3 linked regions of the Homo sapiens genome follow. The protein of the gene in region 3 purifies or fractionates together with the protein of the main gene of each other region. This does not show direct contact. Each region holds a gene or a part of one and is shown on either strand. Other genes may lie near its edges.

The links.
Region 1: the proteins of PIF1 (region 3) and PASK purify together in Homo sapiens (affinity purification with mass spectrometry; one large-scale study listed by BioGRID and IntAct). This does not show direct contact.
Region 2: the proteins of PIF1 (region 3) and ATP23 purify together in Homo sapiens (affinity purification with mass spectrometry; one large-scale study listed by BioGRID and IntAct). This does not show direct contact.

What each region holds. Positions count from the first base shown.
Region 1 is NC_000002.12:241,125,325-241,128,972, forward strand, and holds part of PASK (PAS domain-containing serine/threonine-protein kinase), read right to left. Parts: intron 2,128-3,648; coding exon 872-2,127; intron 1-871. UniProt on the Homo sapiens protein: Serine/threonine-protein kinase involved in energy homeostasis and protein translation. Phosphorylates EEF1A1, GYS1, PDX1 and RPS6.
Region 2 is NC_000012.12:57,951,459-57,955,106, reverse strand, and holds part of ATP23 (mitochondrial inner membrane protease ATP23 homolog), read right to left. Parts: intron 3,350-3,648; coding exon 3,212-3,349; intron 1,502-3,211; coding exon 1,418-1,501; intron 1-1,417.
Region 3 is NC_000015.10:64,819,070-64,822,717, reverse strand, and holds part of PIF1 (ATP-dependent DNA helicase PIF1), read left to right. Parts: intron 1-107; coding exon 108-240; intron 241-326; coding exon 327-452; intron 453-1,197; coding exon 1,198-1,351; intron 1,352-1,436; coding exon 1,437-1,551; intron 1,552-1,629; coding exon 1,630-1,736; intron 1,737-2,698; coding exon of another isoform or gene 2,699-2,714; exon of another isoform or gene 2,715-2,731; coding exon 2,732-2,871; intron 2,872-3,494; coding exon 3,495-3,601; intron 3,602-3,648. UniProt on the Homo sapiens protein: DNA-dependent ATPase and 5'-3' DNA helicase required for the maintenance of both mitochondrial and nuclear genome stability. Efficiently unwinds G-quadruplex (G4) DNA structures and forked RNA-DNA hybrids.

The sequences.
Region 1 (3,648 bases), on a different chromosome or scaffold from region 3:
GCACGGTGGCTCACACCTGTAATCCCAGCATTTTGGGAAGCCGAGGCGGGCGGATCACGACGTCAGGAGAACGAGACCATCCTGGCTAACACAGTGAAATCCCGTCTCTACTAAAAATAGAAAAAATTAGCCGGGCGTGCTGGTGGGTGCCTGTAGTCCCAGCTACTAGGGAGGCTGAGGCAGGAGAATGGCATGAACCCGGGAGGCGGAGCTTGCAGTAAGCTGAGATCGCGCTACTGCACTCCAGCCTGGGCAACAGAGAGAGACTCTGTCTCAAAAAAAAAGAAAAAAAAAAAAAAAAGAAATGAAAATAAAAAAGAAAGTAAAACAGAATCAATCTCAAAGGGGCAAGCAGAGGGGCCCGATCACATGACCCTCACAGAAGGGCAGGTTTTTCAGAGATCAGGGCAGCCTAAACACCAAAAGCACGGAAGAAGAACACGTGAGCATCTCACCACGCTCACATCCCTCTCGGCCTGTCTGTGTGACCACTGAGGTGGGGGCTGGTGGGAGGTGGAGAGACAGACTCTAGCGTGACACCCCCACGCTTCTCCTGCTCCCGACGGGATCTCCCCAGGCTGCTGGGAGGAGCGGCTCTCTAAGTGTATGGCCTGAGTCAGGGGGCACAGCTGGAACTGACGGGCATGGGGCAGGTGGCCTGGGACCTTGGGCGCCACCCTCCCCAGGCACACACATTCGTAATCTTAATTTTCTAGGGGTGGATGATATGCATTCTCCTTGAAAACATGATTTCTGCTAACACTATTCCAGGGTGAAACCCCATCAGACCCCAGAACAAGGAAGGCCCTGCACCCCCACTGCACTGTGCTCTGGGAGCACCACACTTCTTCCTATGGGGCCCGGGACATACTCAGCCGTAAGCCATCTCGATGGTAGCAGCTCCCGGAGTAGGCACCCTCCTGGATCTCCCGCTGCAGGCCAGCAGCCCCGCGCATCACGATCACGGGCGTGGAGGTGACCTGGACGTTCAGCCTTGGCTCCTCTGCTGATGGGCACGTGTCCTCAGGGCCAGCATCCAACGTGGAAGGAACGTGTCCTGGGCTTTCTCTGTCGCTTGCTGCATAATGCTCAGAGGACACCAAACAAACCTCAAGCGGTTCTGTTGGATCATGTCCCACACAGCTCTCCCGGAACCGTCGGCCTTGGCCAAGGTCAACACAGGTGCCGGTCAGTAGTAACAGCTCCCTGTCATCCAGGACACACGACCCCTGTTCCTGGAGACTGCCTACATCTGGATCGGAGCCCACTGCCAAGGAAGAGGGTGTCTCTCTGAGTTCAGACGTAGCACAGGAACAATTTGATGACGTTTGGTCTGTCTGGTCACTGAAAAAGAGTTCCTTGAGGTTCCAGGAAAACGAATTCACATCAACCTCCTGGGCCTCCACTGCTTCCAGGCCCCCAGGGAGGTCCGTGGCCAAGGCATAGCAGGCTGAGGAGCTGCCCGTGCAGCCACCGCACAGGTCTCTGCCTCCCAGATCGCAGGACGACACAGGAGCGGTGACAGCCTGGCACTCTGTCGGAACGAGTTCGGCGTGGGGGACATCCAGGGCTCCTGCAAGGCTCAACTGGGACAGCTGCTCCTTAATCAAGCAGGTCTGCAGCTCTTCTCGGTCGTTTTCCACTCCCAGCCACGGCTCATCTAGAGTAGGTGTCCCAAACGAGAGGCCTGCCATCCCAGAGGGGCTGGGGGCCAAGTCCTGGCTTCGCCACCACAAGCCCCATTCACTCCCATAGCAAGGGCAGTGCATCAGGAGGCTGCCCCCCGCCAGCTGACCCTTGGCCTGGGGCTTGGCCACGGCAGCCCCAGCCCAAAGGTCTGAACCGCTGGGACCACTGACTCCCATCCGCTCTAGCTGGGCCTTCTGACACAGGCCACACATGCCAGCATCACTGCCCCCATCCTCAGCTGGGACTGGAGCTTCAGAATCTTCGCAGGAAGCAAATGGCTTCACATCCACTGGTTCAGACCTGCTTTCTCCCAGAAGATCCTGTCCGGGGCTCTCTATTGCCACAGGTTCCTCTCTCCCCAAGGCAGTGATTTGCTGGTCCTTGGGCAGCGCCTGTTCACCGTGCACTGGCAGGCTTCCTTCTGGGACATTGTCCACCCTGGGGATAATGACATGGGTGACCATCATGTAGGGCCACAGATGAGTCAAAAGGAGAGATTGCACCGATTCTCCATTAGAACTAAGTACAAAGCATTTAATGCCACCAATTTATAACAAGAAAAAGACCAAATTTTGTGACCAAGTTAAAAAATAAAGCACTTAGTCTCAAATTTCTCCAAATTAAGTCCACATTTAGAAATGATTTTGCAGAGAATGCTACCAAAAGCCCAACAGTAAAGTACAGGAGAACTTGCCAATGCTTTGGTCAGCGCTCTCGCTTCATCTCAGGGCCCCCAAACCCCCCGTCAGCCGTGCAGCCTAGCCTCGGCCCCACCTGCAAGGGGAAGTCCGTGCTGCTGCCTTGAGGAGGTGTGAGAGGAAACGAGAGAGAGATTGGAGAGTCCCTGGTAAACTCCACAACAGTAAAAAAACAACTGATTGACTACAAACACCATCCGATTTCACAGCCGACTAGGGAAATGGCTCTCAGATTTGGGAAATGGCTCTCAGATGGGGCCCACACAGAAGGGGCCAGGGGCCAGGGGGCCGGGCGTGGTGGCTCACGCCTGTAATCCCAGCACTTTGGGAGGCCGAGGTGGGCAGATCACTTGAGGTCAGGAGGTTCGAGACCAGACTGGCCAACATGGCAAAGTCCTGTCTCTACTAAAAATACAAAAATTAGCCCGGTGAGGTGGCAGGCACCTATAATCCCAGCTACTTGGAGGCTGAGGCAGGAGAATGGTTTGAGCCTGGGAGGCAGAGGTTGCAGTGAGCTGAGATTGTACCAGCTCACTGGTGAGATGGGTGACAGAGTGAGACTCCGTCTCAAACACAAACAAAAAAAGAAGGGGACACGGGCCGAAAAAGAGAGAGGAGGCTGGTGAGGGCGGCTCCTAAGAGGTGGCACACAATGTCCTCCAGCATTCAGCACATGGTGACCCATGAGGAGGCTGCCACAGTCCAGACAGGATGATCACAGAGCCAAGGGACCCAGGCCTCCTGTCAGCCCAGCCACTGGCCTCCACATGACAGACTGACACTGGGCACCAGATGCACAGAATGTGACCGCACCACCTCACTCGGGGACAGACACACAGGTTAACATCAGCAACCTAATAAAGGTATACCAGAGGCTCAGAAAGAGGACAGGATCGGGCACAGTGGCCCACACCTGTAATCCCAGCACTGTGGGAGGCTGAGCCCAGGAGTTCGAGACCAGCCTGGGCAACATAGTGAGACCTCGTCTCTACAAAACATTTAAAAATTAGCCAGCGTGGTGACACACACCTGTAGTCTCAGCTACTTGGGAGGCTGAAGCGGGAACCTCGCTTGAGCACAGGAGTCTAGGCTGCAGTGAGCTGTGATCGCACCACTGCACTCCAGCCTGGGCAATGGCCAAGACCATCTCAAAAAAAAAAAGACGGAAGAGGAAGGATACAACCCAAGGGTGGGTTCCACAGAGAAAGGGATTGTGAGCCAAGTTCTGAGGAAAAGCAGTTTTCTGAGGGGAACTGAGGGG
Region 2 (3,648 bases), on a different chromosome or scaffold from region 3:
ACATTATTCTCTTCTCTAGGGGCGTGCTGATGTGTACCCTGCTTCCACCCTCTCCACTGACAGCCAGAACACACAGAATTCACCAGAGAAGCAGGGACTCAAGGGCACAGAAAACATGCAGCACAAGACAAGTCACTGGCATATCACTAAGCTGACCTGGCAGAGGCTGAACACCTCACTGTCTAGAGTAATCACCCTTTCCAGGCAGAAGGCTTTTCTTCTCCCTCCCATTCACTAAGTTCACAATTTCTGAGTAGCTCACTGTGACTTTCCACCCCCCACTCCAGAGTTGAGTTACTCTCTTCTCCAGAAAACCAAGGGCCTTCCTGTTGTCCTAAGCCTATCTTTTTTCATCTAGTTGGAACTGATATCGTGATGCTCATATACTTCACAAACTGACTCAGCAGGCTCTTACTGTAGAAAATGACTGACCAGCCTTTCTCCTAAATGTGGACACAGGCCCAGGCAGAACTGCTCACATTCATTATCAATCCATGAGTCCTATACTTTCTTTCCCCACGTCCACCTAATACAGATCTCAAAGCCTTTCTACCAGGATAATCTTGCCTTATAGCTCTCTTTTGTTTTTTGTTTTTGTTTTGTTCACACAAATCCCTCTCAGCTAAGCTCATCATACTCAAGTCTGTGCTAAGCCAAAGGTTTTCTATCACATTATATAGCCTTTACAGGTACACTGACACATAGCCATAACTTGTGCAGCAACACACTCTCTGTTCTGAAAGGGATTACATCTTTTGTCTCCAGAATGCTATGGTAGATTCAAAATAGAAGTCAAGAATTGTTAGAATAACAGTAAGACATGCTGTGATTTCACTTCCATTCCTTATCCACCCCCATCGAAAAGTATCCCAGATGCAAGATCTTAGCTCCTTTTTTTTTTTTTTTTTTTTTGAGATGGAGTCTCACTCTGTGGCCCAGACTGGAGTGCAGTGGCATGATCTCGGCTCACTGCAACCTCCATCTCCCAGATTCAAGTGATTCTCCTGCCTCAGCCTCCATAGTAGTTGGGACTACAGGTGTGCTCCACTACGCCCAGCTAATTTTTTTGTATTTTTAGTAGACACGGGGTTTCACCATGTTGGCCACGCTGGTCTCGATCTCCTGACCTCGTGATCCGCCCGCCTCGGCCTCCCAAACTGCTGGGAGGCATAAGCCACCGCACCAGGCCTCTTTTCATTATTAGACTATCTCACACACTCATTGAGTCACATAGCTTGCCCATAATTACAAAGTAGAACTAAATTCCATCTACTTTGTTTAAATGGTACATACTTTGTATTCTTTTCACATACGAAGTTCTTTCAAATTTCAAATACTGAATGTACTTTTCATTTCTTTATTCATTATTTCCACTCGTAACACTCTGGAGGGGAAGTGATTTCATATTAGTTTTTACCTGGTGGTGTTGTTTTAATCCAAAATGTAACCTGAATATTTCATTGACAAGTGAGCAGTCTCCACTAAGGTTAGCAGCTCGAACCTATCACACAGAAGACAAATAAAAAGAAATAAACGCTCATGCTCTATATATCTTTATGATATCAACCAATTTTTAAAAATTAGAAAAGAATATAAAATTAGCATCTTTGTCTGAGAAAAGAGTATTTGTGACACTTCTTCTTAAAGGACTTTTTAAACTCTATTGACAACGAGAGCAAATATCTATGAGCTATGCTAGACAATGCCAAATACACTGGAGAGATGGGGAAAAGTTCAATCGCCTACCAAAGGAAATTTTCTAAACTTTATGCGTAGCTTTACTGACAGAACTAATTTCTTTTGGAACCAAAAGTCAGAGAGCTAGACCTCAGAGTTAAACTACACACTCTACAAGATACAAATACTTGTAGAAATTGCCAAAAGTACTTCAAGAAAGCATTCTTGAAATAAACTGAGTTTCAATGTGACCTTAAAACTGAATGCATTAATATCTGAGACACTTTGAGAATATGCCCCTCCCAACCCTTGCCCGAATCTCCCTTGGAGCTTCCCTCAAACCTATATAAGTTCATGACCTTCCTCTAGGGACTTGATTGTCCTATGAAAAATGAAGCAATACAAAACACAAAGAATCAAGAACATTCCAAACTGGTCACGCTATGAGCATGACAGCCTGAAATTAGGACATATTTTCAGATTTACTATACTTCAATGAATGAAAAAGTCTTAGAACTACCCACATAGATTCTACAGGCAGCTTGACCACATTTTTGCTAATTCATTGCTAACAGAATGGCCCACTTCTTGTTCCTTCTTCAATATTATGGCCTCATTCCTCTGAGGAGCTCAAAGTACTTAACACACTTTAACTAGCTAAAAGGCATTAATTCTCACAGTACCCAAGAAAGAGACCTATTTAAAAATTCAGGTTTCAGTCTATTCTCCAAATAATTGGAATTATAATTAGATGCAGGGGGCTACATATTAATTTCAAGAGAAAGGGAAATAATCGAAGTTATATAGTATAGGCTTGAGATTTAGATTATTTTAATTAACTCTTCAATTAATGACATCCAAGTATATGCATATGCAGAATACGCTCTCTCTAGGAGCATATTCCAAGAGCAATCCAACGTGCTTAGTAATAAATATCTTTTTATGTTGTATTTTTGAAAAGAGCATGTTTTACTCTAGGGCAAGCAAGGAGCTCTATGGAAGGCAGCTGGGCAAGCTAGTTAAAAACACTAGTTGTAATCCTGCCTCTACCACTTACTAACTTTGGAATCTAAACAACTGTCTCACTTTCCACATATGTAAAACAGGGACAATAATAGTATAATATCTATCTCAGTAGGTTATTGTGAAGATTAAATAAGAATCTGTGCAAACAGAACAGTGTTTGGAACACAGCCCTCAGTAAATTTTAATTATTTTTTTATTTTTATTTTTATTATTAATGTCTCCTATGGAATACATTATAAAATATATTCCATAGGAAAAAATTAATAGCTTATTAAAGTCAGTCATCACTATTACTAGGACTTACAGGATATAGTTAAGAGAATTCTAAAAATACACTTTAAATTTCTCTAACTGTATATCAAAAATGGTATTCAATGTTAGTTATAAACCGAAATTCAAGACTAAGGTAGAACTATGACAGTAAGAAAAGGAATACATTTAAATAAATTACACTTGAATAAAATATTCAAGCATAGAGTATTCTGGAGAAAAATACAATAAAACTCACCTCTGAGCACGCCAAATGTCTGATGTTGGTGAACCAGTCGACATGGGCACGACAATGATCAAATGCATGAATAAGCTCGTGTGTGACCACTCTGTTCATATGGGCCTGATTATGGATATTATTCTGGCACAAAACTATCTAGGAGACACCAAAATAAAAGAAGTTCAGTGATTCTAAAATCTCCTTCCATAGACTCGATCTTCTCTCCCACATGACCTCACCTCTCCCCCACAAGCTCACCTGCCTGGAATATCTCTACCCACTCTTCTTCATTGGCCACACATCTACCCATGGGACAAGTCCTAGTCCTAAGTGTACATGCTCCAATTGCCTCGCCCAGTGACTAACTTCTCCCTTCTCCTCTCTCTGGACTACAGCAGTACTTAGATTAAGGACACGTATTCACACACCATCCTTACTGGGCTGATCGTACTAGT
Region 3 (3,648 bases):
GTAGAGGACAAAGGGTTACCAGGCCCAGCATTGCACATGGGCCAAGAAGGGTGGGGGCAATGCCTAGCGGGTGGGAGGATGCTCTGAGATAGCTCTGTTCCCCCCAGGAAGCCCCAAGGTGGCCCCTGCCTGTGAAGAGGCTGAGCTTGCCCTCCACCAAGCCACAGCTTTCTGAGGAACAGGCTGCTGTGCTGAGGGCCGTCCTGAAAGGCCAGAGCATCTTCTTCACTGGGAGTGCAGGTAGTGGGGGCAGAGAGGAGGTAGGGGGACAGTGGTGGGGTGGGATAGAGGAACAGGGAGACCTGTCTAACTTTGCCCCTGTCCAGGAACAGGGAAGTCATATCTGCTAAAGCGAATCCTGGGCTCACTGCCCCCCACAGGCACTGTGGCCACTGCCAGCACTGGGGTGGCAGCCTGCCACATCGGGGGCACCACCCTCCATGCCTTTGCAGGTAAGTAGGAACCCCTAGGGCTTGAGCTAAGAGCAAGCCCAGCTTCTGGGAAGGGAGAGAGGGGAGGTCTGCATAAAGAGGGAGTTTTGGGGGCTGGGCGCCGTGGCTCACTCTTGTAATCCCAAAACTTTAGGAGGCCAAGGTGGGAGGATCGCTTGAGCCCAGGAGTTTGAGACCAGCCTGGCCAACACAGTAAACCCTGTCTCCACAAAATTTAAAAATTAGCGGCCGGGCGCAGTGGCTCACGCCTGTAATCCCAGCACTTTGGGAGGCCGAGGCAGGCGGATCACAAGGTCAGGAGATCAAGACTATCCTGGCTAACACGGTAAAACCCTGTCTCTACTAAAAATACAAAAAAATTAGCCAGGCATGGTGGCAAGCGCCTGTAGTCCCAGCTACTCTGGAGGCTGAGGCAGGAGAATGGCGTGAACCCAGGAGGCAGAGCTTGCAGTGAGCCGAGATCACGCCACTGCACTTGAGCCTGGGCGACACAGCGAGACTCCATCTCAAAACAAAACAAAACAAAATTAGCTGAGCATGGTGGTGTGTGCCTGTAGTCCCAGCTACTATGGAGGTTGAGGTGGGAGGATCGCTTGAGCCCATGAGGCCCAGGTTACAGTGAGCCAAGATCGTGCCACTGCACTTCAGCCTGGGTGACAGAAAGAGACCTTCTCTCAAAAAAAAAAAAAAAAAAAAAAAAGAGAGGCTTTGGGTATTAGCCCAGGCTGAATAGTGTCACTCACAGGCATCGGCTCAGGCCAGGCTCCTCTAGCCCAGTGTGTGGCCCTGGCCCAAAGGCCAGGCGTGCGGCAGGGCTGGCTGAACTGCCAGCGGTTGGTCATTGACGAGATCTCAATGGTGGAGGCAGACCTGTTTGACAAACTGGAGGCCGTGGCCAGGTCAGTATGTTCAGAGGGCAGCAGGTGAGAACTGGGACCTGGTGGTCTTCTGTGTGCCCCTAAAGCACCCCACGCTCCTCTCCAGAGCTGTCCGGCAGCAGAACAAGCCATTCGGAGGGATCCAGCTCATCATCTGTGGGGACTTTCTGCAGCTGCCACCTGTGACCAAGGGCTCCCAGCCCCCACGGTTCTGCTTCCAGGTATTACTCACCTCCTAGCTCTGCTCTCCTTGGGGGTCTGCTCTGCTCCTTGACCCACCCCCACCCTGCCCCCACCAGTCCAAGAGCTGGAAGAGGTGTGTGCCAGTGACCCTGGAGCTGACCAAGGTGTGGAGGCAGGCAGACCAGACCTTCATCTCTCTACTGCAGGCCGTGAGGCTAGGCAGGTGAGCTCTGCTGGTTGGGGAAGGGGCTATGGGATGAGGATCCAGGCATGGGCCACAGTGGAACACAGAGAGGGACTCACAGAAGGGGTAGAATTGTTACCCTCAGGAGCAAGCACTCCATGCAGGAAGAGGAGCCTTGGGCAGGGCACTGGACAACTCAGGATGGATTGTAGTCAAGACCATCATGGCACCATAGGAGATGGTTGCTCTGAGTGCTGGGACCTAGCCTCCCTCAGGGTTGGGTCTCCATCACCTAGCACAAGGCCTGGCATAAAGTAGGTGTCAGGGGCTGGGCACGGTGGCTCACGCCTGTAATCCCAGCACTTTGGGAGGCTGAGGCAGGCGGATCACAAGATCAGGAGTTTGAGACCAGCCTGGCCAACCTGGTGAAACCCAGTCTCTACTAAAAATACAAAAATTAGCTGGGCGTGGTGGCACGCACCTGTAGTCCCAGCTACTTGGGAGGCTGAGGCAGGAGAATCGCTTAAACCAGGGAGGCAGAGGTTGCAGTGAGCCAAGATCATGCCACTGCACTGCAGCCTGGTGACAGAGCGAGACTCCGTCTCAAAAAACAAAAACAAAACAGAAACATAAGCTAGATTTTTCACCCAAGGTAGGAGGCAAGTGGATAGAAGATTGTACCCTGGAGGCCAATCTGGGTCCTGCAAATCTCCAGCCTGTGCTCACTCATCATAGCCAACTTCCTCAGGAGTATTATGGAGTGCGAGGGTGGCCAGCTCTGACCTGGGGCAGCACAGGGAAGGGTGCCCACATGTGATCAAAGCTCAGTACCCTGCCCCTGCTTATTCCCCATGTTTGGGGTCCAAGTTTGGAAGGGACAGGTTGGCCAGCTTGAGGGGGCAGCAACTCTTCCCTGGTGCCCTCTTCCAGTCCCAAGGCCTGACCCATGGCCTGCTGCTTGAGCCATCCTGCCCATGTTCCCCACCTCCCCTGCTGCACAGGTGGGCTCTGCCCTGACAGTCCAGCCCCAACAGGTGTTCAGATGAGGTGACCCGCCAGCTCCAGGCCACAGCTTCCCACAAGGTGGGGCGAGATGGGATTGTGGCCACGAGGCTCTGCACCCACCAGGATGATGTGGCCCTCACCAACGAGAGGCGGCTTCAGGAGCTGCCAGGTGAGCAGGGAGCCTGGGCTGGGCAAGACCAGCTGGGAAGAGTTATAAGCAGATGTAGCCCCCAGGCAACCTGGGCCTCTGGGTCCTAGGCCCCCAACCTCTGAAGCCATAAAGGCCCTCATATTTGCAAATGCAACTGTGACTTTGAGAGGTGTGATGAACTAAATTCCACAGCCCCCCAGGCCTGCGCTGCCTCTACTCCCTACCCCCGTGCTCTGGTCTAATAGTTTTTTTTGGAGGCTGGGAGCGGTGGGTCATACCTGTAATTCCAGCACTTTGGGAAGCCGAGACAGGCAGATCACCTGAAGCCAGCAGTTCGAGACCAGCCTGCCCAACATGGCAAAACCCCATCTCTACTAAAAATAGAAAAAAATTAGCCAGATGTGGTAGTGGGCACCTGTAATCCCAGCTATTCGGGAGGCTGAGGAGAATTGCTTGAACCCAGGAGGCAGAGGTTGCAGTGAGCCGAGATCACGCCTTTGCACTCCAGTCTGGGCAACAGAGCGAAACTCCTTCTCAAAAAATAAAATTAAATTAAATTAAAATTTAAAAAAAGTCTTTTTTGGGATGCTGAGTCACAAGTCAGTGATTTGTGATCTGTTTGCTCAACTCTTTTTCTCCAGGTAAGGTACACAGATTTGAGGCTATGGACAGCAACCCTGAGCTGGCCAGTACCCTGGATGCCCAGTGTCCTGTTAGCCAGCTCCTTCAACTAAAGCTGGGGGCCCAGGTGAGTGGGAAGCAGGGCCTAGCCCCTGGGAGCTTGGGCTGTCCCGC